2 separate regions of the Homo sapiens genome follow, and region 2 is linked to region 1. The links come from fine-mapping of genetic effects on gene expression. Tissue or cell type: whole blood. Region 1 holds a variant in brackets; the other region holds the start of a gene. All regions are shown on one strand. Distances are from middle to middle.

Region 1 (16,335 bases):
TATCCATTAATGTTGGACATATAAGCTGTTTCCATATTTTTACATTTTAAGAAACCATTACGGCCGGGCGCGGTGGCTCACGCCTGTAATCCCAGCACTTTGGGAGGCTGAGACGGGCAGATCATGAGGTCAGGAGATCGAGACTATCCTGGTTAACATGGTGAAACCCTGTCACTACTAAAAATACAAAAAATTAGCTGGGCATGGTGGCAGGCGCCTGTAATCCCAGCTACTCGGGAGGCTGAGGCAGGAGAATGGCATGAACCCGGGAGGCAGAGCTTGCAGTGAGCCAAGATCACGCCACTGCACTCCAGCCTGGGTGACAGAGAGAGACTCCGTCTAAAAAAAGAGAAAAGAAAGAAAGAAACCATTACAAACATCTTTGTACTCATTTTTTTTTGACGTTTCAGATTTTTTTTAGCATAGTTTTTTCTGAAGCAAAATTACAAGTATAGAGCAGGGAGTAATGAACTTATAAGGAAAACAAATCAGCCTGTGGACTACTTGTGTAAATACAGTTTTACTGAACATAGCCATCCCGTTCATTTATATATCGTCTTTGGCTATTTTCAGGATATAAGGGCAGAGCTGAGTAGTTTTAAAAGAGACCAAATGGACCACAAAATATTTAAAGTTTAAAAAAAGTTACCCATAATAGCACCTCCTATTAATAACCAGTGAAGTTTTTATTCCTTCCGATTTTTACATACTTGTAATACCTTTTCTATATAAAACTGGGTTCATGCATAATATATTATTATAACCTAGATTTGGTTTTACTTATCGACATTTTCCCAGGCCATTCAACGTTCTCCAAAAGCATAATTTTAATGCCTACATGACATTTGTAACATGGGCATATGCTAATTTAATCATTCAATTGCTGTTGGATATTTAAACTGTTTCTACTTTTTCACCATAATACTATGAGAAACAGTCATATATGATATATGTGAGGCTTTTGCATTTCTCAGATTAAACTTTTACTTAAGAAGAACATTTACTGGATCAATGAATATAAATGTTTTTAAAAGCCATATTCCTTTTTTCTTCAAAAGGCTATACGGCTTTACATACGATCAAGCACATGCTTACAATAACTGAATTACATCATTTAAAAAGTCTTCATTATTTCGGTAAATAAAAACTGGTATCTTTTTTTAAAAAATGAACATTTCTTCGGTTATTAGGTTGACTGAACAGTTTTTGTGTTTCTTAGCCCCTTAAAATTCTTTTTTGGTGGATATTCTCTTTATGCCCTTCATTTTCAATTGAATTTTAAATTTGTTTATCCTAATTCTTTTATTATTGTTTTGGGCATAACATTTAAAATTGTATGTAATCAGACCTCCAGATAAATTTCCTCTGTATTTTCTTTTTATTGATCTTAGATATAAAAATAGTGGTTATACGAAACAAAAATCTATCTATGTATGTACAGTACAATCTCAGTAACCAAGATAACTTTTGTGATTCCCCCCATGGATATGCAAATCCAAATATATATATTTAACCTCAGAGAGAAACTTTCTATTTTGACTACTTGGTTTTAAGCATCTGTTATTTTTCTCCACAGTAAAAAGTTACAGAAATGTCACTCAAAAGGAAAAAGGAGCTGGGTGTGGTGGTTCACACTTGTAATCCCAGCACTTTGGGACGCTGAGGTGGGAGGAATGCTTGGGGCTAGGAGTTCAGGAGGCTGGAGAAATAAAGCTCATTTTTTTCATTTTATTTAGAAGAGATGAGGGGTAAAACAAAGATACCCAGGTTCTGGCTATACCTTTCCTCAAATGAGCTGCATAACCTCTTGGCTTCACTTATCGCTGTGTCACTGAGACATGCCAACTAGAAAATCTTCAATGTCTAAAAACTCGTAAAACTCTAGGATTCTAAAATTATTTCATTTAATCAAAATTAAGAAAATTCTTCAAACATTTACTTTTTCCACAGATGAAGAAAACCTCTCTTCTCTTCACTGCACCCTTGTTACGACCCTGTCACTTTTTCATTCTTCATGAATTTTGAGGTAGTTACAATACTTAACAGATTAATAGGATGAAGACAGGATTTAACCACTCAGAACAATGCTTCTCAAACTGGGCACTTCGGGAATAACATAGAAGGTGCCCTGGTAAGAGAAGCAGCACTCCTTTGTGGATTAATTTTTAAAAATCTAATTTTTACACTAAAACCAATAAAGCAATATACAGAACAGAAAGAAGATTCACATGAATGCTGTAGTTTTTAGCACAAAACGTCTATATACACACACACACTCACATGACCTTTAACATACATACATACATACAGACATACATACATACACACACCCACATATTTTTTAAGAGACAGGGTCTTGTTCTGTCACCTAGGCAGTGGTGCGATCATAGGTCACTGGAGACTTGAACTCCTGGGTTCAAGCGATCCTCCTGCCTTGGCCTCTCGAGTAACTGGGACTACAGGTATCACCACTCCCAGCTAATTATTTTACTTCTGTAGAGTTGGGGTATCCCTATGTTGCCCAGGCTGGTCTTGAACTCCTGGGCTCAAGCAATCCTTCTGCCTTAGTCTCCCAAGGTGCTGGGATTACAGGCACGAGCCACCATGCCCAGCGAACTTTTAGTATCTTCACCCTTGATTTTAACTTGAAAGCCAAGATTCAATAATTAAATCATTTTAGAGCAACTTAACAAGTAGATATAAAAAATTACCCCTAAAATTAAAAGTAACACTGGATTAATGTTTGAAATCCTTAAAAAGTACTAACCTGTTTTCTGAACTAGACGTAGAAGTACTAGATGATGACAATGTATGAGAATTTGACATGCGTGAAACAAACTTCTGGATGGTGTTACGAGATGGAGCTTTGATCCTTGAGCTACGCCTACTGTGATATTTCTGGAACAAACTCTCAACCTAACATTGGAAAAAGACAGTAACAATGATATTTGTGCCATAATTATACATATGAAGAGTTCTAGAGGCTGAATTATTTATCTTTAATTTGCATGTTTTTCATAAAGTTGATTTAAGAGCTTCAAAAATAAGAACACATTATAGTTTTTACTAAGGACAACATTCTTACAGCAGGTCAGTGTTTGTTTTTTTCAAGCTAGAAGAAAAAGTTTAGTAAATATCTCATGAGAACTATTTATAAGCATCAACTAATTCTTACATACCTTCACACCTTTAAAATGGTCACTGCCTAAATTTAGTGAAGGATAAATTTTAAGAATATATCCTAAGAATATGCTAACAATTTTACTCTAAGCATTTATTAAAAACTACCTCAAAATTCTTTAAAGTTTTTCTCCATAACATTGGGTCTGAAGGTTCTAGTTGAAACACCCGGAGCATCACAAATAGCAGATGAATACAGAATGTTCCACGTGCACAGCTGCAGTTCTAAAGAGTTAAAAAGAAAACCTATAGGTTAATACATCTGTGGTTCACAAGAACTTCTAAATTTATCACTTTTACAATATTTCCAACTTTTTATACTAAAGTTTCTATTAATTCATATTCTTCATTATCTTTGTATATAAGAAAAATCTACAGCTATTTCCATGATTTAATCTTTCATTTTCACTGAATTTATTAAATAGATCAAATTTCTATTCTATGGTATATTAAGATAGTAAAACCTCATAAATACATTAAAGAAAAATATTAGCCTAAAATACATTTTAAGTTTAACTTTGTTTACTATAGGGAATTAATTGATCTAAATTTAAGAACATTATAGTATATAAATTTGAGGTAGTACCATATACTACTACTAATAAAGTATAAAATGGTGACGAATCCTACCTGAGGCCCAATAAACACCCGGTATTTATTGTCTGGGCTGTCTCCTCCAATCAGGAAAGAGTTAGGCCCTATCTGCTGCAGTAAGTACAGTCTGGCCCGCATCACTTTGTTAACACGGCGGTTTGTTTCCTCAGGGCTATATGGTGAGAAGCCATCTGGTGAAGGGGCTCTTCGGGGTGGTGTGATTCTGCCACTCTGAAACTTCACAACATTTTTTTTTATTAGGTACGTTTCTCATTTCTTAATTAAGAAACTATTATCCGGTCAGGCATGGTGGCTCACGCCTGTAATCCCAGCACTTTGGGAGGCCGAGGAGGGCGGATCATGAGGTCAGGAGATCCAGACCATCCGGGTTAACATGGTGAAACCCATCTCTACTAAAAATACAAAAAATCAGCTGGGTGTGATGGCACATGCCTGTAATCCCAGCTACTCTGAGGCTGAGGCAGGAGAATCACTTGAACCTGGGATGGAGGTTGCAGTAAGCCGAGATTGTGCCACTGCACTCCAGCCTGGGCAACAGAGCGAGGCTCCATCTCAAAAAAAAAAAAAAAAAGAAACTATTATCCAAAGAAGATCATACAAGACAGTCATGTGGCAGATTATAGTCTGAAAAAATGTCAGATTTAAAATATTATGGAACAAAGGCTAAATGATTTTGTCTGACATACTCATCTCAGGTGAACTTTTAAAATCTCAGTCATCCCCATAAATGTTGATAAATATCTGGCTGAGAGAGACAACCATGTGGTAATTTTATAAATTATTCTATTAACATTTGAGTTCTTTGAAACATCTAATATAAACCAAAACAAAAAGCATAGAAAGTATATATCATAAGCAGGCAGAATGCTGTGTCTAGTAGTAAAAACTAAAAATCCAACTTCCTGGGATCTATTGAAGGCTTTATTAATCTTCTTTAACAGGAAATTTACAAACGCTGCCATGGAATGCCTCCCAACATACACTCTGCAGACTCTTCCTCAATAAAAACAAATTAGTGGAAGCTGACAAAAACGCTCCTAGGGTGAGGATAATATATAACACTCTCACTATACTAACTTTCCTAGAACTTGGTCTTTCCATCAATGTCCAGTGGAAATTCCAGTTTTTTGGATCCCTAATTAAATAGTTAAGGGTAATAAATGTTGGCAAGACCACAAAGCAATTAGAATTCTCATATAGTGCTGGCAGAATGTAAAATGTGCAGCTGGTTTGGAAAACAGTATAGCAGTTCCTCAAAATGTTAAACGTATTACCCAGCAATTCCATTCCTAGGTATAAACTCAAGAGAAATGAGAATATATGTCCACCTGAAAACTTGTACACAAATGTTCACAGTAGCATTATTCATAATAGCCACCAAACAGGAGCAGCTCAAATGTCCATCAACTAATAGATAAACAAAATGTGGTATATCCATACAATATTGCTCTGCAATTAAAAATGGAGTACTAACACATGCTATAGCATGGATGAACCTTGAAAATATGATACTAAGTGAAAGAAGCCAGTCATAAAAGATCACCTATTAAGTGATCCCATTTATATGAAATGTCCAGAATAGGCAAATTATATATATAGAGAAAATAGATTAGTGGTTGCCTAGGGTTGGGAGAGACTGTTGTTAAATGGAAAACTTTAGACAAAATAAATTTAACAGAGTTTATTTGAGCAAAGAATGATTCATGAACCAAGTGGTACTCAAAACCGCAAGTTCAGAGATCTCTGATCTAGCACCTTGAACAGCCAGCTTTTACAGGCTGAACACAAAGCAAAGCAAAGCAAAGGAATCAGCTGATTGGCTACAGCTAGGTGTTTGCCTTACTTGGGCATGGCATTATGCAAAGTCCCTAGTTATATAACAAATAGGCTGGCTGGCTGTTTGTGATTGGCTAAAGGTTGGTTTCATTTCCAGGTGTAGAAACAACCCCAGGCTACCTACTACCTATTTTGCTTTAATACTGCTAATAGGTCTAGGATATCTTATTGGGGTAATAAAGATGTTTAAAAACCGACCGTAATAATGGCTACACAACCCTGTGAATATACTATAAAACACTGAATTGTACAATCTAAACAGGTGAATTGTACAGTAGATGAATTACACATCAATAAAGCCATTATTTTTAAAAAAGCAGTTACTAAAAAGTAAAAACAAACAAAAAAAGCCAATTATGCATGCACACGTCATTTTGACCTGCTAGGTATCCAGCCTATGGATATGTTCACAGATACATGCTCACAGATGTACAAGATGACATACGTATAAAAATACTTTTGAAGCACTGTTTTCAGTAACAAAAGGTTAAAAAGATTATAAATGTTCATTAGTATATCATTCATTAAATAAACCATGATTTATCCAGCTAATGAAAGGCTATGTAACTGTTAAAAAGAATGAGGGGTAACTTTGTCTAGCATATATGCCCAAAGTGGGTTTTGGGGGTGGGGTGTGGGGAAGGAAGACAGTTCTGTTTATACTTGTTGTAAACTTTCATTTTGATGGCCCCCATGAACCATACCTCCCAGTATTTACATTCTTGTGTAGTTCCCTATCACATCAATTCTGGGTTTGGGCATGCAACTAGCTTTGGACAATAAGGCATTAGCAAACACAATGAAGTGGAGGCTTGAGAAGAGCCTGCATGTTGAGACTTGCCTCTCGAAACAATACTCTTTGCAACCCAGTCTTCGTGCTAGGAGGAAGAGATGCCAACAGCCCCCCAAGTGTTCCAGTATCCCAGCTGAAGCAATAGGCATGTGAGTGAAGAAGCAGTCTTGGACCTTTCATCTTCAGAGAATGTCACAAGGAACAGAGATAAGCCACCCCTGCTGAGCCCTGCCCAATCTGCAGATTCGTGAGCTAGTAACTGATTATTGTTTTAAGTTAACAAAAATTAATAGTTAATTTAAAGGTATTTTAACATAGAGCCAACAACTACTGTTGGGCATCAGGTTTTACTGTAAAATGTTTTTGCTTTAAATGTACTTTTTAACGAATTTATGTACCTTAATAACTCCAGATCTTAAAAAAAAACCCAAACTCCTCTTGTGGTCACTATCTCAACCATTTTTCCATTCAATCATTTGTTCTTCAAAGTTAGAAAGTGAGTCTTAACATGCATTTCCACTACTAGAAGTCTCTCTCTCACATGAATTTACCACCTATCTTTTTGCAAATTTCTTTGATGTTTAGCTTAATATACAAGACAGCTAAGATTCTCATAGCTGCTTCTGCATTCAATCTGCTGTGATATGATGTTTTGATTAAAGTATATGAAAGAAAGTTTGGCCTCATGCAGATACGTAGATGTAAAAGGAAGGAGTATTTTAATAGCCCCTTTTTTTTTTTTTTTTTTTTTTAGGAGTCTCACTCTGTCGCCCAGGCTGGAGAGCAGTGGCGTGATCTCGGCTCACTGCAACCTCTGCCTCCCGGGTTCAAGCCATTCTCTCTGCCTCAGCCTCCAAAGTAGCTGGGATTACAGGTGCCTGCCACCACGCCTGGCTAATTTTTGTATTTTTAGTAGAGACGGGGTTTCACCACGTTGGCCAGGCTGATCTTGAACTCCTGACCTCCAGTGATCCGCCCACCTTGGCCTCCCAAAGTGCTAGGATTATAGGTGTGAGCCACTGCCTGTTCAAATAATGATGAATATTCTTTGGTACTATACCAAAGCTCAAAAAATGGTTTCTTAAAGGCAGTTGTAATGTGGAATCTGAAACCACATCAACAAACTTTTCCTACTGGCACATTAAAAATCCAAATGGTGTATTTTACACTTTGAATGTATCTTTTACCTATGAATAATTTTGTTATTATCATACACTGATCACGTGGAAAATATTGGTTCCTTAAGTTACGCAGATCTTCCAAATGTTCACATATTTCATTATACAGCATGAAAATAATCACATTTGTTATCACCAATCTTATCAGAAAAGTCTAAGCACTGGGAGGCTGTCAAGCTCATAGTGGTGGATAGTAGCTTTCTAAAATTCTAATTTTTGTTTCGACATCTCAACTTTTAACACTAGTGAAAAAATACTTAAGTTGCTTTTCTTTTTTTCTTTTTTTTTTGAGATGGAGTTTCGCTGTTGTCGCCCAGGCTGGAGTGCAATGGTGTAATCTAGGCTCACTGCAACCTCTGCCTCCTGGGTTCAAGCGATTCTCCTGCCTCAGCCCCCCGAGTAGCTGGGATTACAGGCATCTGCCACCATGCCTGGCTAATTTCTGTATTTTTAGTAGAGATGAGGTTTCACCATGTTGGCCAAGCTGGTCTC[G/A]AACTCCTGACCTCAGGTGATCCGCCCACTTCGCCCTCCCAAAGTGGTGGGATTATAGATGTGAGCCACCGCTCCCAGCCTTAAGTTGCTTTCCTTGAAGTGACAGTCTCATTTAATTCACCTTAAGAAAAATGTCTTCCAAATACCCAAATCTAAATAATCATAGTTTGTTGGTCACTCATTTCATGTTCCATGAAAGAAATAACTAGTTCAGCTTGCAACTCTAACAACCGCACAAATACTTCTCCTTTAGAAACTACTGGATTTTGGTATGTAGAAGTGCTTTATGCATGCATCCCATTTCATCACACACAATATTACAAAGGCACGTATTTACTAAGAGTCAAGATTTAATAAAATTAATTTATATTTCCTTGTCAAAGGCATTATCAAGTGTAACTGGCATTTTTTTCTTTAATGGCTGATACATAGCAATAATGAATATAGTTTCTACAGTTGTAGCCTTAAATTGGGAAAAGGCACCAGTAGCTTTACCCACCACTGCAAATATCAATGCAGGGAAAGAGGCAAACAACATCCCAGTTTTATCACAAAATTAGTTTTGACCTAATAGACCCCAGAAAGGGTCTCAGGAACCACCCCCCCCATCCTCAGGGGTCTGCAGATCATATTTTGAAAACTGATGTTCTAACAGATGGCTGGCCAGTCTTTTCTTTGTTATAAATGAAGCTAAAAATTATAAAAACTAACATATTTGTTGTAACATTAACTTACAGGCACTGGGGAAACTCTTTTTCTCCTTACTCCTGGAGATTCTGATTTCACTGTGCGACCTGATGGGGAGTTGCCAGGAGAAGGACTGCGTCGGCCTTTGGAAGCTGGTGAAGCCGCACTTGCCTGGACCTCTCCTGGAGACTCAGCTGCTAAGTGATTCATTTCAGATCCATCTCCTTTAACTGGGATTGGTTTTACCACCTGAATCAAAGTATTCCAATATTTTGATTACTTAAAAATATAAAAGGTAAGTAAATGTAAATATCATAGACTAGGAAATACACTTAATGAGTTTTTGTTATGAAATATTATACCAGTATACCAGACAATATATCAACTTTTATTATTACTTTAAGCTATTAATGTAAAAGATTATTTTTACCTGCACAAATTTCAGTCATTTAGGATTTAACACTAGTTAAAACGCAACCTCCTCCCTTACAATTTTGTAATGCATACAAAACTGTAGAAATGGTATTATTTGTTATTATATACCCTAACTCATTTAACACTCAAAAGCAACAATCAAAGGTGATTAAACAAATGTGAAAAATAAGCACTCATAACTTCTACAGTCAACTTATTCAACTACTAGATCAAAGATCTAGGTACGTTTTTATTTGTTTTTACAAAATGTAGGACCTTGAAACAACACTGGGCATAATTTCAAATAGTTTGATCACTATGCAATCATTTTCCCTGCTTTGTGTGTGTGTTTCTTTACAATGTTATATTACAATAATAGGTTAGATGTGTATCTCAGAAAACCAAAAGAGACTAGAAGTTTAAAGATCAATTTCTCAAGCAGAAATGCAGTTTACAAGACCTGCCTTTTTTTTTTTTTTTTTTTAATTAAGGCTTTCAGACCTAATCTAGCCATGACCAAAGGCCAAACTCCACAGCTTTGTACAACTGAAGCTCAGCAGACCTTTCTGGACTTTCTCCCACTGCTCCTGTTCTATAGCCAGTTGCTGTGTTCACCAAACTTGCCTGACCCTTCCTCCTCCTGTGCTTTCACTCACTCTCCTCCTATTTTAATACTCATCTCCAGCCTGCAGCACCCCAGGCAGTACACCTTCACATGAGGAAAATTTACCCATCTTTCTACGCTGAGTTAAAATTCTTCCTTTTATGAAACTTCCCTGAAGTCTACCAGCAAGACATTCCTTCTCTTTCCTAAGTCCCTATTGCTCTTCTGCCCATCCCACACATTTGGCACCTAGTCACAAGTTGCTTTGTGATATTTCATGTATTACTCTATTTATTATGTATAAGTCTAATTTTCCCATTTGGAGATATTTACCCTTTATGTTTCAAGAATGATTTGACACAACTTACTTAAAGTATAAAAACAAACAAAATCAGACCTCCCAAGTAAACAGTAAACTTCCTAAGGATAATACGAAATCCGTAAATCATAAAATGTAGGGTGGCATAATTAAGCTTAAGGACTATGTGTTATGCATCTTATTCCACACATCTCCTCCCTCTTCACTCATGTCTTATATACAGACAAGGTACTTTGGTACTTGCTAGAAAGTGAACAGTATAAAAACCAAAATTTTGTTTTAGAGAACTGGATATTCTTAGTTCATGTATAATAAAGAACAAATAGCTGGCTCATTTTTAAAAAGTTGTGATTTATGCCCTACGGTATTCTCAAAAGATTTAGGCTGTTTGAACACCTCCATCTAAAGGAGCTCAGAAAGCAGCACATTCAAACTTCAGATGGCTCTGCTTGTTCAAAAGTTCTTTATATTGATTGAGTAGTAATATGCCCTTTTAACTGCCAACATTCTACAAGATGTTTCAATAGCACTTTCTCTTCTCTAAGATAAATCCTTAATTTCTTCATATTCACCTTCTGGCACGAATAGCTAAAATGGTGAGGGGTTCCCACCATACCACCTCACGTGAGTAATAAATGGAAGAAATGTAGAAACTTAGCTGTAAAGACAAGGACTCACGGGCCCATAATAACTTACCAAGTGCTGGTATGGAAAGGAACAATTAGATTTATTCTGTATAATTCCATCGGTTAGAATGAGAACCAGTGGGTAAAATATTCCTGACAGACTGCAGCTCAGTGATGAGGATATCGAAAGCCACAGGGATTATTGAGTTATTTAAGTCAGACACGAGTCAGTACTACACATCTAAGAGAGCTTTCTGAGGCAGTGAAAATGTGCTAAAACTGCACTGCCTAAAAGGTAGCCATTGGCCACATGTGGTTACTGAGCATTTGAAATGTAGTTGGTGAGACTGAGGAACTAAATTTTTACTTTTATTTACATCTAATTAATTTAAATGTAAACTTAAATAGGCATATGGGATGAATGTAGGGCAGACAATCACTTGGCAGGGGTGTATTTAGACCCTTGTCAAAGCTTAGATGAATTTTAAGTTGCCATATCTGTTTTAAAAGAACAAAATAAAAACTTGCTGAGAGAGATTAGTGCTAGGATACTGTAATACTTCTTCCTTTGTAAGAATGAAGACACACATTTCATGATGGTATTCTTATAAGAATATATATTCTTATACCTATAGCAAAGGACAGAGTATCCCTGCTTTTTAAAATCTAGGACTCTAGATTTTCTTTCATCAAACCCCACACATTTTTAATTTATCTTAATCCCCATAGGTCTATTAAACATTTTTTCATGTCAAATGAGGATAACATGCTGACACTGTAACAAAGTTGGAGAAACGCACATCTTATGCATGCATGTGAAAACCCAATCATTACACTTATGAATTACTGCAATTAAATGTTTTCTTTCCTAGAAGATTTCTGAAATTAAGATCCTTGGATCCTGTCTTAGAGATAAAACATCTAAAATAAACTGGAAAAATTCTTTTTAAAATTTACAAGTACAGTATAAAACTCCAATGAAAGGATTTTAGATACTGACATGAGAGGGCAGTCTTGGTTTAAGCATTTACCCCTCCACCAAACACAACAGTTAAGTTCCCAGAATAGTTTAAGTTGTTTAATGAGCACAGTTTTAATTATGGTTTCTTCCAAATGACCACAATATCAAGTAAAGAAAACTACTACATTTAAAATGAAGAAGAAAAGCTTACAAGAGGATCTATTTATGCTTACTTTTCCATTTCCTCCTATGCTTTCTTCCTTATAACTGGTAACCCATAGCCACTTACCACAGGCCCTCGCCTATTTCTCCTTTCCAACCATTCGTGCTTCCAGGCTGGCATACAGGTTGCCTTCAGTTTCTCCCTGATCATTCGTTCCTCTGGACGATCATCCATCTTGTGCAACCCTTTGAGAGTTTCTTTATTCTCCATCTCACGACTAAAATGCAGGCAGAAACAAATAAAATGAGAAATGTATATATGAAAAATAATTTCCAAGAACAAACAGAATGGATGGTTCTATTTTATACTTCCAACGGACATGTAATAAAAAAGATAACTGCTAAAAACCCCAAATGACTTAAAGCTTGAAAAGATTCTGAATTATATACTACTGACATATATCATGCAGACCTATGTTCCACTGTAGTTAACAAAATGAATCCCAAGACATTAAGCACTATATTAACAAATATATTCACTAAGACTGCATTGTTTTTAATTCTACCACCCAAATAACAAATATTTAGAAGGGTGTATTACTACACTTTTATCCCAGGATTTCCAATAAATTAAGTCAATACAGATAGAATCTGGTGGATATGCTGATTTATCTGAAATAAGCTCAATAAATATTTAATAAGTGAAGTGAAACTTAACTACATCATCTATGACCCCAAAACAATTTTTCATAGCCTACATGATTAAATTTTTATTTTCATAGAACAGTGACTTCATAACAAAGCACTTGGGGTACTCTATAAAGAATAAAAATTATCCAGTACAAACATTTGATCTTTACTCCATAAAATGGTGTGGATTTACCAGAATAAAACAATCTCTAAACTAAGAACGTTTGAGAATTAACTCTACAAAGCCTAACAGGCAAAGCATCAAGCTCACGAAAATCACTAATTTTAAAATATACCCATATCCACATGAGCATACATGCATACACGATATGCATAGATTTGAAAACCTGATTTATAAGGATGCAGTTAAAGCAACTGCACCTTGGGATTAGTAACAACTTTAAAAATACTAAGCTAATTTCAGTAACTATTTTGAAAAGTCTTTAAAGCTAGAGAACAGTTTTTCTACACTGATAGGAAAAGGAAATACTCAAGGAAATACCAAAAACAAGAACCTCAAGTTTACTACAAAGACAAATTCAAACTCCTCTAGGAATTTTCCAGCTAATCACAACTATGAAGTACGATCTTCAGAGAATCAGCCAAAGGAAGAAGAAACTACTTAAAAAAAAATATTCACTAGAAAGGAAACGGTTAACCCGTTTCACTGAAGCATCAAGACTGTGAGGAAAGTAGAAGGCAACATATTAAACATCTTTGTATCAGCAACTGGCCTAGACATTTTTAGAAATACAAAGAATACATAACATTTGGTTTGAAACTTGCAAATAGGCATTAAGACCACAGCGTAAAATATTTCCTTACACACACATACACACACAAATACTGTTATATAGAAGCAATATGAGACTTTCAAAAAGTATGAAAAAAGGAGGATTATCTAATTTACTTATATGTGCTTGGCTGCTTTTTATGCTGATTATAAAATATAAATATTAGGGGATGTGTAGAAGAAAGTAAGAGAGGGAGGGAGGAGAAAGAAGGAAAGAGGAAGGGGGGATGGAGAGAAGGGAAGAAGGCAGAGAAGAAAGGAGGAGGAGAAAAAGGAGGAGGGAGAGGAAGGCAGAGAAAGAGAGGTAGGGGTGAAGAACACAGGGGATAAAGTGTCTTCCAAAAAAGTCCATCCTGCTCAGTTGGTATTCCAGGAGGCTCAGCTTTGTAGGCAACTGAATTTATGTGGTGACTGCATAATAAAAATTCACTTCCAAGTCTTTAGTATTAAAAGCGCTTTCCCCCTCCAGTAACAATGTTGCAAGAGGTGGTTTGGTTCCCAGGCTAGTTCCAAAAAATAAGCCTCACAGTGGAACTGCAGTGCATTTTTATACCAGAAACTCCTGCACTCCTAGACCAAGGTGCTTGATAGTCTTTCCTCTGGTCCTAGCTATCTCTCTTCCCCCAAATCTGTTTCAGGAGTATCTCTTCTCTGCTATGGATTTTCAGTTTCTGTTCCTGGCCCTGAGTCAAACACACAAAGGATGTTCCTTGTCTAAACAAATCTTTCTGGATGGCATGGCCTCCTTAAAGTCTAATGTGTCTCTTTCCTTTCCACTTGTTTGAAAATACTGTCATCTTTTAGACCAATTTCTTTTATCATAAATAATAGGGATGAGCATTCTAGTAGCTGAACTTTTACACACATCTGAGATTCTTTTTTAAATTTCGTTTTACCTTATTTATGTTTAAGGACTATGAGATTATTTTTTTCTTTTTTCTTTCTTTTTTTTTTTTTTTTTTGAGATGGAGTTTAGCTCTTGTTGCCCAGACTGGAGTGCAATGGTGCAATAGGCTCACTGGCAACCTCCGCCTCCCAGGTTCAAGTGATTCTCCTGCCTCAGCCTTCCAAGTAGCTAGTATTACAGGCATGTGCCACCACGCCTGGCTAATTTTGTGTTTTTAGTAGAGATGAGGTTTCACCATGTTGGTCAGGCTGGTCTCGAACTCCTGACCTCAGGTGATCCACCCACCTCGGCCTCCCAAAGTGCTGGGATTACACCACATTTGGCCTAAATTATTTCTTTAGAATAAACACCTAGAAATGGAAATGCTGGGTTAAAAATGTACACAAATGAAGACTTTTGATAATATTGTCAAATAATCTTCTAAAAAATATGTCTTCCATTCACACGCCCATCCAGGTCAAGCTGCTCTTAAACCTGCTCTGAACTAGCAACAGGCTCCTAACGAGGCTTCTTTAACTTTGAATCTTACCCAGATTTCACAGTGCAGCCAGGGTTACTTCCTCCATTAAAATGCTCTAGTGGTTCCCCCCGGGCTTAGACTAAAATCCAAAATGTTTAGCCCAACCTAAGTGGCCCTGCACCTCGTGGTCTCACCTCAATTCCTGTCATCAGACCTGCAACCCCCCTTCTTCACTGCCTCAATAACCCCAAGATCTTTCCTACTCAGGGCTTCTGGACAGGCTGCTTCCTTCTCTGTCTACTTTTTACCTAATTTCTACCCACTCTCTAGATTTTCCTCAACTCCTCAGAGACTTTCCCAATTTCAATTAAGAACTCCCAGTTCCATTCTTTCACAGCACTTGTATTTTTCCTTTAACATGGTTAATGCAGTTTGCAAACTGTTCCTCTCTTATGAACTGTAAGCTCCATGAGTGAGGGGACCACGTGTTATCGCCATCTATACACCTAACATCTAAGCATGTCTGGCTCATAATAAGTATGAACATATATTAAGTGAATGATCACTTATTAACTCTGGCAGTCCTACAGCCTTCCCAGTTTTAAATTTTAATGACTATTCTTATTAACTTTTTTTATAATTCTGTATTTAATTAAGACTAAATTTGCAATTTAGATGTTGTTCAGAACAATTTTCACTGTTCCTAAATTAATCTGCAAATATAAACCAAAGTGTTTTTCCTAGTCTCTTTGTAATAATTACATGTCATTAATTTTAAAATGTGTATTTTTTCACATTTTAATATCTGAAATATGAATGCCTCTTGCAATCAAAAGTTATTATAATTTAACTGGCAGGTGTTATTTCCTTCATAGTATATAAAATAATGGTACAACTTACAACCACTGGGATCTTTGAATCAATGAAATATATAGTAAATCCTATTGTATTTGCCACGAATAAATCACATCTACTCTGTTTAATTTCTCTCTGAAACAGAACCAAACTGTGAAAAATTTTTTTACATACTTGTATTGTTTTTGTTATAATCCTAACATATAATCTTCCATAAGCCAGGCATATATAGGGTTTTCATTTTTACTAGATGAGTGTGTGTGTGTATGTATGTATGTATATAGCAGTGATTTATCATCCAATTAAGATATCACAGCCATAGCAGGAAAAAAATCTTTTTTTAACCAAAGCTAATCTAAACAGATAGCTGTGAAGTCACTGGGAGATGAGAGCCATCTCCAACTCATGTTGGTTAAACGTGAATGTTTCGGGGAGTTATTTTTGCCAAACATTACCCAGAAACATACCTATTTTAAATAATAGTGTATACACTTTTGACCTTAAAAAAATAACAGATTTCAGCTAAACAATGTGTTTTGAGAAACTACCTTGAAGACTTAAAAATAAATAAAATTGTGGTCAGAAAAATAAGAGAAACTTAAGCACTATTACAGATCAAGCTTTATCTTCATTTCCTGTTTATTTAGGAAACATGAGGTTTCTTGGTTTTGGTTTCTAGACATTCCTAAGAATGAATTTGTGACCTGACACAGAACTTCAAGAACGCTTACTCCCTGAGGTTAGGTTTCTAGTGCTAGACTCT
Region 2 (13,849 bases), 50 kb before region 1:
CTCCCACCAACACTATCTTGCACTTTTTTTCCACCTTTTCTTTGGTGTGAAAATGTTCAAAGAGTAAAGAAAATAGTAATAATGACCTCACATTTTCCCCTCAGCCAGCTAGAGCAATCTTTACATTATACATAGACACACCAATTTACTCATGGCAACACAATAGGTATTTTTTACTCAATTCTGTAAAAATAAAGTTTTTACAGAAGTTTGTACACATCAGCAGTACTACAAGAACTGCTGATGCCTGGCTACAATTTTATAAACCACCACAGAGCTTACAAAATAAACAAAAGAAAAATTGAAATTATAAGTTCAAAGAGTAGGTTTTAATTTAATAAGCTATTGTGTATTTAGGTGAAAACCAATTAAACTTGGAATTGCATTACAAATTTGAAATTGTAATGAAGCAAGTAGCTTTTATCATGAAATTGGAACATAAATATAATATCAACAAAAACATAAGAAATTCCTATTCCAATTAAGTCTCAAAATATTTGTTTTACAGGTAGAACTCAGAGAAGTGATTAACAAAAAACACTTAGAATTAATAGCTGAGTAGAAAACCTAATAATTTCTGATTCACAGAGTTAGCTGACAATTGTGTAGTAGTTTGAAAAAAGCTCTTCTCCTTGATTGATGTCCCTAAGTGCGACAAGAACAACACATCGAAGTGGGCTGAAAACAAAAAGATATACAAAAGGTAGAGCATTAACAAATATAAGCTCATATTTTTAATATAACCAAGATGGCTTTTATAGAGGTAACTTTACTCAGGTTCCTTCCATTTTAGTTTATGCATTTGATTTCCATGAGGAAATAGTTCTTATTCCTGATGCAGGTATTCTAAAGAGTATATCTATATCATTTAAAAAATCACAAATCAATGTTTATACAACTGACTACTTCTTCTGAAAACATTGTTTCTAAGTTTAGGCCCCCAAAACTAGTATCACAAAAAGGATTTTAAAATGACATTATAGTTTTTCTTGCATTCATTTGTATCTTATATCCTGAAAAATGAAAACATTACTTAAAATTAGTTGGAGTTTTAAAAAAATGCTTTTTTCTGGACATCATAAAATATTGTTTGTTTTTTTTGAGATGGAATCTCACTCTGTCACCCAGGCTGGTGTGCAGTGGTGTGACCTTGGCTCACTGCAACCTCTGCCTCCCGGGTTCAAGCGATTCTCCTGCCTCAGCCTCCTGAGTAGCTGGGATTACAGGTGCGTGCCACCACGCCTGACTAATTTTTGTATTTTTAGTAGAGATGAGGTTTCACCATGTTGGTCAGGCTGTTCTCAAACTCCTGACCTTGTGATCCGCCCGCCTCGGCCTCCCAAAGTGCTGGGATTACAGGCATGAGCCACCGCACCCAGCCTAGATATTGTTACATATATACATTCAAAGTTCTAATAACATCATGCCCCGGAGTATATGGCTAAGAAAAGCTAATAGTTAAACACACAAACATACACATGCAGAGAAGCAAAAGTTATCAAGTTTTTGGTTTTTGTTTTTTTCCTGTTTTGGGACAGGATCTGGCTCTGTCACCCAGGCTGCAGTGCAGTGGTGCCATCTCAGCTCAATGCAACATACACCTCCCAAGTCAAGGATCCTCCCACCTCAGCTTCCCAAGTAGCTGGGACTACAGGTACACACCACCACACCCAGCTAATTTTTGTATTTTTTGTAGAGAAGGGGTTTTGTCATGTTGTCTGGGCTGGTTTCGAATTCCTGTGCTCAAGCAATCCACCCACCTTGGCCTCCCAAAGTGCTGAGATTACAGGCTTGAGGTACCGTGTCTGGCCTCAAGTTTTAAGTATAAATAATAGTTCATGTTTTAAATGTCATTCATCTTAGAAGGACAATTTAATAGGTCCTATATAAAATAAAGTTTGCTAGCAACTCAACAAAATAATACAAAGATTGTATCTTCCTACAGCACTGTTAAGAAAGAACTCTTAGCTCTCCAGAATTACCTATATTTTAAAATTGTTATTTGAATATTCTCAGTAGACTTTCCACTGAATGAACAGGAAATAAATGCTATGTTAAAATATGTGTCTTCTGAATACAGTCCTTTTTTATTTAGTTTCATTATTAAGAACCTAATAGTGAAATTGGCAAAGGAATCATAGTGTAATTTGGCCTCTTTCTTCAATTGGATGCTTTCTTATAAGGTAGAGAACATGATATTATAAATGATTAAAGTAAAGATATATTTGAAGATTTTGTAGGTAGGAAAAACAACAGAATTATTTGAAAAAACTTTAAGGTGGATACTTATGAAGTATTGCCATAGAATAAAAATGGGTAAAAATAAACAGAATGAGCTAGTTTAAAGGAAAATTTTAAATTTCAAATAAGCCTACATTAACACGTTAAGGTGTGAACATAAAAATCTGAGTTATAATTTTTCACTAAAAAAAAAATTTTACCCCAAATTCTACATAGCTTTTTCTTCTATATTTTTTTAAGTACAGCATAAGCAGAAGATATGAAATGCTCTTTTAGCAAACGAACCTTTGTTTGTCATAGCTGTAGGCAATGTTTGGAAGATACTGCTTCAGTTCTATAGGGAAAACTGCAGGCACATCAAATTCCTGATAACAGACATTAGCTGCTCTGTCTAGGAACAAGCACATCATTTTTAGAAAAAGAGCCATTATACAAGGTCATGGAAAACAGAATTGAATTATGACACTCAATGTCTGTTTTTCTAAATTATCAAAACATGATCAAAATAATTACTACTATGTTCCAGGTACTGTCAGAGTTTATTTACGTATATATATTTGCAGATATATATGGTAAATCATAAATATATAAAATAAAATATTCAAAAAGACATATATAAAACATGTTTTATTACTTTTTGCATAAACAACATATATAATAACATATGTTTAGATAATATCTACCAACATACATAATAAACATATATGTATGTTTTATTGTTTACTTTTTATATATCAGGAAATAGAGGCTCAGAAATGTTAAAGGTTAAATACTAATAAAAGAGTCAGGCTTGGACTTCGTTTCTCACTAACGCCAAAGCCCATGTTAAATGTATTCAAACAATCAAACTTTTACCTATGGGAAAGTCAACTCCTAAAGAAGATATAGATAGGGACTCACAAACTTAGCAACAGAAAGCAGATACTAGTCTAGCCATTAATCTATAAGGCTATATTGAAGCACTGACATAATAATTTCTATTTTTAAAATGCTAAAATAATAATGATCAAAGGGGAGTTATCAATTGCCTATATTCACTGCAAAATCAGAAGAAAAATAGTAAATTAAACAATTCTAAATAATGTATATCAAGATTTCCCCTAATTCTCTCTAATATCATCCCCCAAAAGTGAGAGTTGCTTAAGGACTTGACTAGCTTATTATATGTTATACTCAACTGCCCTTGGCACTCAGTCATATGACAAAGGAGTAGAATTAGCCATTGATATATCTCATCTCACAGCCCCATGATGCCTTCTTACCATTGGAACAATTGTTGACATACTGTCCCACAGCCAGAGGGTTATGAATTTCTGACGTTAGCCATGTACTATCACTCATTTTTAAAGGGCCGAGTCGATCCCTCCCATTGCAAGATCTGAAACAAGTGAAAGCATTAGCTAATGGATCTGTATCTTAAAATAGAATCCTAAAATACAAAACCCTAGAATTACACCAGTGCATTTTTTCTTAAAAAAAAAAAAAAAAGACTTTAGTATAATCAGTAGGGCAACTGAGTTGTTACACAGCAGCTATCTAAACAGAATTTTATTCAAAGTATAAATGCTGGCCAGGCGCAGTGGCTCACGCCTGTAATCCCAATACTTTGGGAGGCTGAGGCAGGCAGATCACTTGAGGTCTAGAGTTCGAGACCAGCCTGGCCAACATGGTGAAACCCCAACTCTACTAAAAATACAAAAATTATCTGGGCCTGGTGGTGCACACCTGTAATCCCAGCTACTTGGGAGGCTGAGGCAGGAAAATCACTTGAACCCGGGAGGCAGAGGTTGCAGTGAGCAGAGACCGCACTGTTGCACTCCAGCCTGGGCGACAGAGCAAGACTCTGTCTCAAAAAAAAAAAAAAGTAAAAAAAATAATAAAATGAAGCATAAATGCTGAGCTGGGTGTGGTGGCTCAAGCCTGTAATCCCAGCACTTTGGAAGGCCGAGATGGGAGGGTCGCTTGAGGCCAGGAGTTCAAAACCAGCCTGGACAACATAGCAAGACCCCATCTCTTTATATAAAAAATAAATAAAGTACAAATGCTATTAGTCATAATCATTGTGGTAAGTGCGGTTCTGTCTCCTATAATTAAATTTGAACATGGGCATCACTTACCTGTACACAACTTTTGATATCCCTTTGTCATTCCCATCAATGAGTACCCCATCCAGGCATCTAAAAATAAACGGATTTCCAATGGACTGGAAAAAGATCGGCTCATACTTCTGATATACTGTACCTATTACACAACAAGACAAAGAAATATGATAACAACATGAAAAATCATAAACACTGCGATAAGAACCCTTCTTTGGAATATAATCACATTCTCTTTAGTTACTTTCTCCCTCTTAAAGCGTGAACGCCCAATAGCAGATGGAGCACAGAACCAACTCATCCACACAGCAAAACAGAATATGGCTATCTTGGTTAATGATAATATGAACATCACATTTTAGGCTCAGTTTTACAAAGTCATATATATACATATACACATTTATATGTATATGTGTATATATATACACACACACATATATATTTAAGTAGAATGTGATTTAACATCTAAAGAGTTTGAAGAAATTTATTTTGCTAATAATTAAATAATGTAGACACATATGGGAATAGATGAGTCTGACATTAAGGCTGTTTCTCCTTTCACTGGCAAAAGACGAAATGAGAAAATATTTACCGAGTGCTTCCTATGTTCCAGGCATGTTAATCTATTTATTAAACTTCTTTTAGTATTAATTTATTTATTCTATTTAGTCTTTACAAAATTAGATTACTCGTACAGCAGGAAACTGAAACTCCCTTGTTTGGGGATGTAAAATTAGAAAACAGGAGAATGAATTTTTAAAAACCTGGGTCTATCTGACTCAAATATTCACACACACACTTTCCACTATACCAAATAATATAATGTTAGTTTAACACATAACGTAGTCTATTTAGCATTCTAGTTAATGATCTTGTGCCAAGAAATTGCCTTACTTTCCAAGTGTAGAAAGGGCAGGAAGGTCTTCATTCGGTGACTTATGGGTTTAAATGTTGTCTTTTATGTTTTGATCCGTACGCTTTTTTTTTTTCTTTTTTTTGAGATGGAGCCTAGCACTGTCACCCAGGCTGGAGCGCAATGGCACAATCTCGGCTCACTGCAACCTCCGCCTCCCGGGTTCACGCCATTCTCCTGCCTCAACCTCCTGAATAGCTGGGATTACAGGTGCACACCACCACACCTGGCTAATTTCTTGTATTTTCAGTAGAGACAGGGTTTCACTATGTTGGCCAGACTGGTCTCAAACCCCTCGCGATCTGCCCGCCTCGGCCTCCCAAAGTGCTGGGATTACCGGCGTGAGCCTATCCATACCATTTTTATCCTTAGCTATCAATTAAACCAAACTGACATGTTTCTCTAGTGCTTTTTAAGTAATTTGTCAAAGTGGGTCATACTATGTTCTAAATTTAAACGTTGACAGGAAAGCTTTCCTTGAAAGAAAAAGTGCATTTATCCCAACAAATACTCCAGGATACTTTCTAACACAAAACAATTTACAAACAGTTAATTTCCGAATTAGAATTGCAAAAATCTATGGAAACTCGAGTTTCCAATTTAATCCCTTACTCTAAGGATTGCAAGGCTGGGTATGTTACTGAACTTATGTTTATCAATACGTAAGAAGCTTGGCAAAGTATAATATTAATCGTGCTGTTACCAGGATACATAGATACGACTGCGCCTTTTGGTACCAATCCTTTAGTAACGAAGACACCTTTTCCAGCAGAAATCAATGAGCTAGTTGCTTGGGCAACACTGAAACCCAAAGTCTTGTAAAGAATTTCTTCTGGTTTAAAGGTACTTTGCTGTTGATGTCTGTTTTCAAGCAGTTTCACCCCTTGATGTTCAACTGCCAGTAGGTCTTGATATTTTGATTTAACAGATTCTGGAAGCATAGACAAGATTTCTGATTGTTTATTGAAATCATTTAAGAATAGAGCCTGGAAAACTTTCAGTAATGTTCCTAGGACATCTTCATCTGAGATAACTTTGTCTTTGGATTCCTCTGGAACATATCGGAGGGTCCTGAAAATGGGAAAAGTTTCTATTCACTACCCTTCAACTGATAAAAGCCAAACTTACCTGCATAACTTCTGGGTTCCTGGCCTTAAGGAACTATAAGCTTATTCTCATGTGTGTGGAGGGCTGGAAACTAAGTTCAGAAAAGAATTGTTTGAGGGAGTTCTAGTTAGCTAACTCCCAACACTTCCCACCCAAGTAGTCAGTACTTATGAAAGGCCCATTCTATACCACATGCTGTGGGGTCCTTACATTATTCCATTTTTGCAGACAAGGAAAGCAAAATTGTTAGGGAACTTGTTCAAGGTCCCAAAGCCAGTAAGTGGGAGAGCCAGAGGCAGAAACGAAGTTCAGCTCTTTCCCGTACTACACCCAACAGCCAAGCTGAATGTCATCACAATGAGAATGAATGACCTCACATTCAATGGCTTTTTAAAAATGGCCTTGTAGTTTCAAAGACAAATTCAACATCGTATACTTTGTGACACTCCCTCCAGGACGACTAACGTCTTCAATGACTGCACCTCTTATTTCCATAATCATTATCTTTTTGTACTAACTGCATTATTTTTACTTGAACAAAAAGGTTGTAATTCCCGCCTCACGGTTCCGAGTCATGATACAACTGATCTCCTGTTTCCCTAGCATGCAACCTTCCGGAAACCGCTTTGTTTCCCTATTTGTCGGACACTGACTTCAGGGAGGCCCGGTCGGCCTCTTTGGTGAGCACGGTGTTGAGCTGATCACTGGTGCGCCCTTAATAACGCCGGCGGGACTCACCCCAATCCGAAACCCACCATCCCGACGTGCTTTTGAGTGGCGTTCTGCCCGTTCTTAACGCGCGAGCTACTGCACGCTATTCTCACAGCCGGGATGGGCTTCTTTAACCACGTGAAGTACTTGTATGAACTATGAAAATAAACCCTGGCTTGGCTTTTCTGAGGAAGTTCAAGCACCTAATTAACCCCTGGTGGAGAAAAAGCCACGCACTCTCACGCGGTAAGGGCAGTCTTTTTAAAAAGTTTCCATTTTTGCCCAGATACAAGCTCCCCAGTCAGTGCCGAACGCAACAGGGAAGAACAGGCGACACATCCGGCTGGCGAGCTCGGCCTCGCGGGCCCGGCAGCGCAGCGGACACTGGGAAAGAGGCCATAGGCCCCGCCCACCTGAAGCCACCGCCCACTTCAGGCTTCCAGCGGGCCTCGGACTCCACCAACCTCGGCCCCGCCCGCCTCTGGCCCGCGTTCCTTAAACCCCTCCGAGGCCTCAGTCCCCGCCCACCCGGCCCGCCCACCTCAGTCCCTGCCCACCCGGGCCCGCCCATCTCAGGCCGGCAGTCAGCCTCAGGCTCTCCGCTTTGCGTCCCGCCGCCGTGGTGGCGTCTGGGAACCGAAGGCAGGTGCCCCTCGTTCTGCCGTCCCGCCCTCTCACCTCGGGTTGTGGCTTAGGTTCAGTGCGATCCAGGGAACGAAGCGGTACTTGTAACGGCGCCATCGCTGCCACAGGCCCCGCAGCAGACGGCCAGGCATGGCTGCCCCGCGGGGCCGTGACCAGGACGGCGCGGGGAAGGCGGATCGAGGCCTCGGGCCCGCCCCGGCCCGGGAGGAGAGGGGGCCGCGCTCGGCCGCCTTCCCCTGGCTCCGCTCTCAGTGTTCCTGGCACCGCCTGACTTCTGTTGCTCTGGGGCTTCGTCCTTCCCCTTTCCTGACCTCACCTCTCTGAATGAGAGGCGCGTAGAGCTGGAAGGAGGTCCCCTTGACCACTTTTTCTTTCTCCGGTCGCTCGGGTGCTTCCGTGGGCGCACACAAGCGCTAGCCCTGGTTGCGGGCGAAGGGTCACCGGGCCTCAGGGGCGAACCCGCCCCCGAGACCGCGTCCCAGGAGCGGACCGCCTAGTTTCTCTGTCACGGCTGTCTGGCCTGCCCCTTTGTCCCGGCCGCGCTCTGTGTTCCATCCTCCGTCCACTTGAGCTCTGCCTCTTCCTCGACGTTCTCTCCCCTTCTCTCCGTGGCCCCAGAGCAGCCCGACTTCGGGAACCCGAGTTTCAGTCCTCCCCAGACAGCAGCCCTTCTTCTGCGTGAACCCGTGTTCCCAAAGTTACCAGTTTGGGCGTTTTGCGAATATTTACACGTAAAAAAACAAAGTGTCATGATTCCCTGTTTTCACTCGTTTTTCTCTTCATTGACCCAACCATTCAAAGGCAAAACTACATGGACAAATGTTTCTGAAAAACAGCTTTGTTGAGGAATGGTTGGGATACAATAAACTGCACATATTTAAAGTGAACAATTTGATAGGTTTTCGACACCACAGCCAAGATAGTAATCCAGCCCCTCCCCCAGTCCCCAAGCAACCACTGAGGTGCTTTTGTCCTTTTAATATGGTCTTCGCTTCAATTTGGAAACGTTTTGTCTAGAAGTTCTGCATCTGTGTTCGTGAGAGATATTGTTTCGTAGTTTTCTTGTAGTGTCTTAATCTGGCTTTGGTATTTAGGCTAATGTTGACTTCATAGGATGAGGTGGGAAGTAGTCCCCCATAGGTGAAATTTAAAAGGAACTTTACGACCGCTCCTCCCCAACACCCAGATGCATGCACACGCACACACATATTTAGAACAGGTTTGGACAAAGTTCAGTTTTAAGGGGGGCAAACTACAGGAATCCCTTAACCATATTCAAATCACCAAGTGTTTATTGACAGATAAATACGTTGGTATCATTTCCTCTATTCTTTGCCTGAGAGTGAGGTTGGATCCTAAACTATTGAAATTGAACGGCTCAGATCTAATAAAAACTCAGCCAAGGCCGGGCGCAGTGGCTCACGCCTGTAATCCCAGCACTTTGGGAGGCCGAGGCGGGTGGATCCCCTGAGGTCAGGAGTTCGGGACCAATCTGGCCAACATGGCGAAACCCCGTCTTTACTAAAAAAGAACAAATACAAAAATTAGCCGAGCGTTGGTGGCACGTGCCTGTAGTCCCAGCTACTCAGGAGGCTGAGGCAGAAGAATCGCTTGAACCTGAGAGACGGAGGTTGCAGGGAGCCGAGATCCGCCACTGCACTCCAGCCTGGGTGACAGAGTGAGATCCCGTCTCAAAAAAAAAAAAAATTCAGCCAATCGCCAGTAGCTGCGGGACTAATTTGTTCTATTCTGAAAGAAATAAAGAGAAAGAGTATCTACCAATGTCTCTATTTCGTTCATATCATATAGAATGTTAGCAAACTCTAGAGGCTTTCTCTCAGACTCTGTGTTTGTTTGATAATTTGGCATAATCTAGATTTACCTGACTTGCTAAATGGAGTCAATTCAGTTCCAGGATGTATTAATAAGTGGCATACAAGAAAGTTTCTTTATAGTCTCCAAACTTAACAAAGAACCCAAAAGAACTAGTTTAATCTTTACCTATGGTAATGTACTTGTCTAAAAAAAGAAAAAAATCAGTTTTTGTATATTTTTACAGTTTTTTTATATTTATGGTATTAAAATTAAATTTTGGTTAGCTAAGTAATTAATGAAAACCTTCTTTTTCTAGTTTCTTAAAGTAGGTTATTAGGTCACTAATTTTAATCTTTTCTTCTTTTCTAATGGAAGCATCTAAAGTTATACAAATAGAAACATGGTAGCTAAAGCTCAAGTCACCCTTAACCAAACACCGTACCTTGTACTTCCACCAATCCTGGTACTTGGCGCTTCTCAGAAGTTATCAGACGGGTGTGTTTTCTGCCAGTTTTATTTTTATGTATTTACATACCCGCGTATGTTTTTATAGAAAATACATAGTATTTTGTGTGAGTATTGTTAAAATATTATAAGGATCCACAACTTATTTGATTTCCTCAAAAATACATCTTGAAGATCTACCCATATTGGTTTAAGTCTACTGCATTCTTCTATTTTTGAGGTTTTGCCTTCAAGTTTAATATTTACTGTAGTTTTCTAGTAGGTATGTATACTTTATGAAGTTTTTTAAAGTTCTATTTTTGACTTTCCAAAAATTTTTATTGTTTTAAATTTTAAATGAATGATAAATATCAAATGCTTTTCTCTGCTTATTGAGATGACCATATAGTTTCTATTCATTTATTCATGTAGTGAATGATGACACATTGTCAAATGTTGACCGTCCTTGGATTTCTGACATAACTACTCAGTTATGAGTACCTCTTTGGTCAGATCCTGTAGGTTTTAATATATGCTATTGTCATCCCACATTTATTTTGAAGTATGTTTTAAAATTTTTTAGATAGAATTTGCCTGTGAAAACATCTGGGCTTGTAATTTTCTTTGATAATAAATTCAACTTATTTTAAAGATATAGGGCTATTCATAATGTCCGTTTCATCTTGTGTTGTTTGGTAAGTTATATTTTTATGGAATTTGTTCATTTTGTCTAAGTTGCCAAATATCTTGGTATAAAGTTGTTTATAAATACTGTCTTACTAACCTTTTAATGTCTGTATGATCTGTTGTAATAGCCCATTTTTGTTCCTGATTTTGGTGATTTGTGTTCTCTTCTTCATCATTGTAATTGAGGGTTTGTCAATCTTTTCAAAGAAACAGCTTTTGGCTTTATTACTTTTCCCTGCTTATTTTTTATTTTGTTGACCTCTGTTCTTATCTTTTTTCTCTCTTTTTTTATTTTTAGTGATGGGGTCTCACTGTGTTGCCTGAACTGGTCCCCAAGTGACCCAACTGCCTATGCCTTCCAAATAATTGGAATTACAGGCATAAGTCACCGTGACCAGTCATATTCTTATCTTTATTATTTTATGTTTTCTACTTAAACATAAAGTAGTTTATTTTTCTCTTCTTTTTCTAGTTTCTTAGAATAGAATATTAGGTCACTGATTTTGGTCTTTCCTTCATTTCTATAGAAGCATCTAAAGTTATAACTATCCTTCCAAACATTACTGTAGCCAAATCTCAGGAATTTTGATATGTTGTATTTTCATTATCATTCAGTACAAAATATTTTTAAAATTTCTTTGTTATTTATGTTTTTAATCCATGAAATATTTAGAAATGTGTTTTTAATTTCCAAATATTTGGGATTTCTAGATATCTTATTGTAACTGGTGTTTAGTTTAATTCTGTTGTGTCAGAAAACATGAATGATTTCAATTCTTTTAAATTTATTGACTTGTTTTGTGTCCCAGCATGCACTCTATCTTGGTGAATATACCGTGTTCAGTTGAAAGGAGTGTATATTCTGTAGTTGTTGGGTTTAGGGTTCTATAAATATTAAGTAGGTCATTGGTTCATAGTGTCTTTTAAATCATCTGTCTTTATTGATTTACATAACTTTTAAATACAGATGAATGAAGAATGACAATTTGACAGACAGTTTTATAATATATCATAGATAGCAAGCAAAAGATTGGCCACGATGGGCATGGAGATATGCTGCTATCCAAAATTACCCTCTTCTTCTGACTCTTTTTCCCACTTCCTGTTGTTTCCAGTTTCCCCAAATACTCTACCCAATTGAATATAAGAATGTATGTGCTGTGTTTTCCATTTAAAACCCATTTATGCTATAAATCACAAAACTACTGTGTAGGAAAAATGTTCTTTTTTGAGACAGGGTATAGCTCACTGCAGCCTCCAAACTCTTGGGTTCAAGCAATCCTCCCTCCTTATTCTCCCCAAGTAGCTGGGATTACAGGCATGCACCACCATGCCTGGCTAATTTTTTAATTTTTAATTTTGTAGAGATGGGGTCTCACTATGTTGCCCAGGCTTGTCTTGAACTCCTGAGCTCAATCGGTCCTCCTGCCTTGGCCTCCCAAAGTGCTGAGATTACAGACGTGAGGCACTGCACCTGGCTGGTAAAATCATCTTTAACATCAGTGTCCTAAATATTATAAATAAGGCATGTATGCCTGGACAGATTGTAACTTCCAGAGTTCAAAATGAGATTAACTTGATTTTTAAATAATTTATTGAACTTCTATTATGTCCCGAGCTCTAGTGCAGGAGACAGATACTAAGTAAACACATAAATAATGTCAGACAGTGATAAATGCAATAAAGAAAACAAGGCAGGATAATGAGAAGAGAGTGGGCTGGATATCTTATGTAGCCTGTCCAGATCCACTGTCCACACCCTGGGGGATTGACTGGCTTGCACATCAACAAGGTCCCTCATCTTCCTGCTTCCAAGTGGATTCAACCAGTGGAGAGCACTGGCAGGAAACTGCAAGAAGAGAGGAGAGTGAGGTGCTGGTCTCTGTGTACTGGCTGTATTCCAACCTAAGGTCCTCTCCATGTAGTCTTATGTGTTTCCGGGTTTCATTCAAGCCTATGGATGGTAACAGCACTCTATTATTGCCAACTCCACAGTTCTGTGTACTATCCTTGTGGTTTCCCTTCATTCTGTCCATGCTGTTACACAATTATTTTCAAATGTCTTAATTTGTGTGTGTCATCTGTTTCCTGCTGGGACCCCACTCTCTTTATGTGGGTCACATGGTGTGGGATTAGGGGTATCAATTTTCGATAGGGTGATGACATGAATGGCTGAGACCTGAATAAGAAGGCAACGAACTTGAAAATATCCACGGGGAGATTCTCCCAATGGGAAATGCAAAGGCACTGAGGTAGTGATATGGTTTGGATGTTTTTATCCCTCCAAATCTCATGTTAAAATGTGACCTCCAGTGTTGGAGATGTGCCTAGTGGGAGGTGTTTGGGTCATGAGGGCAGATCCCTCACCTATGGCCTGGTGCTGTCCTCACCTCAATGAGTGAGTTCTTGCTGTGTGAGTTCATGCGAGAGCTGGTTGTTGAAAAGAGCCTGGCATCTCCTCTCTCCCTTGCTCCCTCTCTCTGTATGTGATACACCAGCTCCCCCTTTGCCTTCGGCTATGATTGGAAGCTTCCTGAGGGCTTACCAGGAGCAGATGCTCCAGCGCCACACTTCTCATACAGTTGGCAGAACTGTGAGGCAAAATAAACCTCTTTTCTTTATAAATTATTCAGTCTCAGGTGTTCCTTATTGCAATGCAAATGGACAAGCATGGGTGGGGAGGAGCTTCACATGTTCAAGCAGGGAAAATAAGGTTATGGAACAGGGTAAGTAAGAAAAAGTGAAAGATGAAGTCAGGGAGAAAGAGAAGATGCCAAGTCCTGTAGGTCCTGGTGAGGAGTTGGGATTCTTAGTGTAATGGGAAGCCACTGGAGGGTTTTAAGCAGGAGGGTAATAGGATCTGATTCATGTTTTAAAAAGATCACTTTGGATATTATGTGGTGAAAAGGTGGGCAATCACCACACCGGTAAGGCCAATTAGGAGGTGAATACAGTAGTTTAGGCAGAGATGATGGTAGCTTAGACTAGAATGGTAACTGTGGAGATGGAGAGGGTGGATGGATTAGGATTCTATTTTGGAGGAACTCACAGGACTTGCCAATGGATTCGATATGGGAAGGTGAAGTTTTGAAATGCCTCCAAGAAATGTCAAGTATCTAGTTGAATATTGTCACATCTGGAGCTCCGAAGCCATAGCTGGTGATAGAGTCTTTAGCCAGAGCCCTGG

Evidence for each region. PIP is the estimated chance that this variant, and not a neighbour inherited with it, causes the effect.
Region 2: SETD9 starts here. The variant in region 1 is fine-mapped to the expression of SETD9 in whole blood (INTERVAL, PIP 0.95).

Annotation. Positions count from the first base shown.
Region 1 is chr5:56,852,410-56,868,744 of GRCh38, reverse strand. It overlaps MAP3K1 (mitogen-activated protein kinase kinase kinase 1), which reads right to left. Exons shown (of 20, transcript NM_005921.2): 2 at 11,995-12,145; 3 at 8,830-9,030; 4 at 3,811-4,011; 5 at 3,289-3,405; 6 at 2,768-2,916. It also overlaps the pseudogene LOC124901214. Among named protein-coding and RNA genes, the nearest start is that of MAP3K1, 45 kb to the right of the region's middle. The variant G/A (reference allele first, on the strand shown) is at 8,095.
Region 2 is chr5:56,903,644-56,917,492 of GRCh38, reverse strand. It overlaps SETD9 (SET domain containing 9), which reads right to left and starts at 7,897. Exons shown (of 6, transcript NM_153706.4): 1 at 7,750-7,897; 2 at 5,957-6,324; 3 at 4,359-4,482; 4 at 3,504-3,619; 5 at 2,527-2,632; 6 at 145-678. The coding sequence starts at 7,847. The coding sequence ends at 591. RefSeq lists enhancers at 6,415-7,236, 7,332-7,381, 8,172-8,261 and silencers at 7,422-7,631, 7,812-8,021.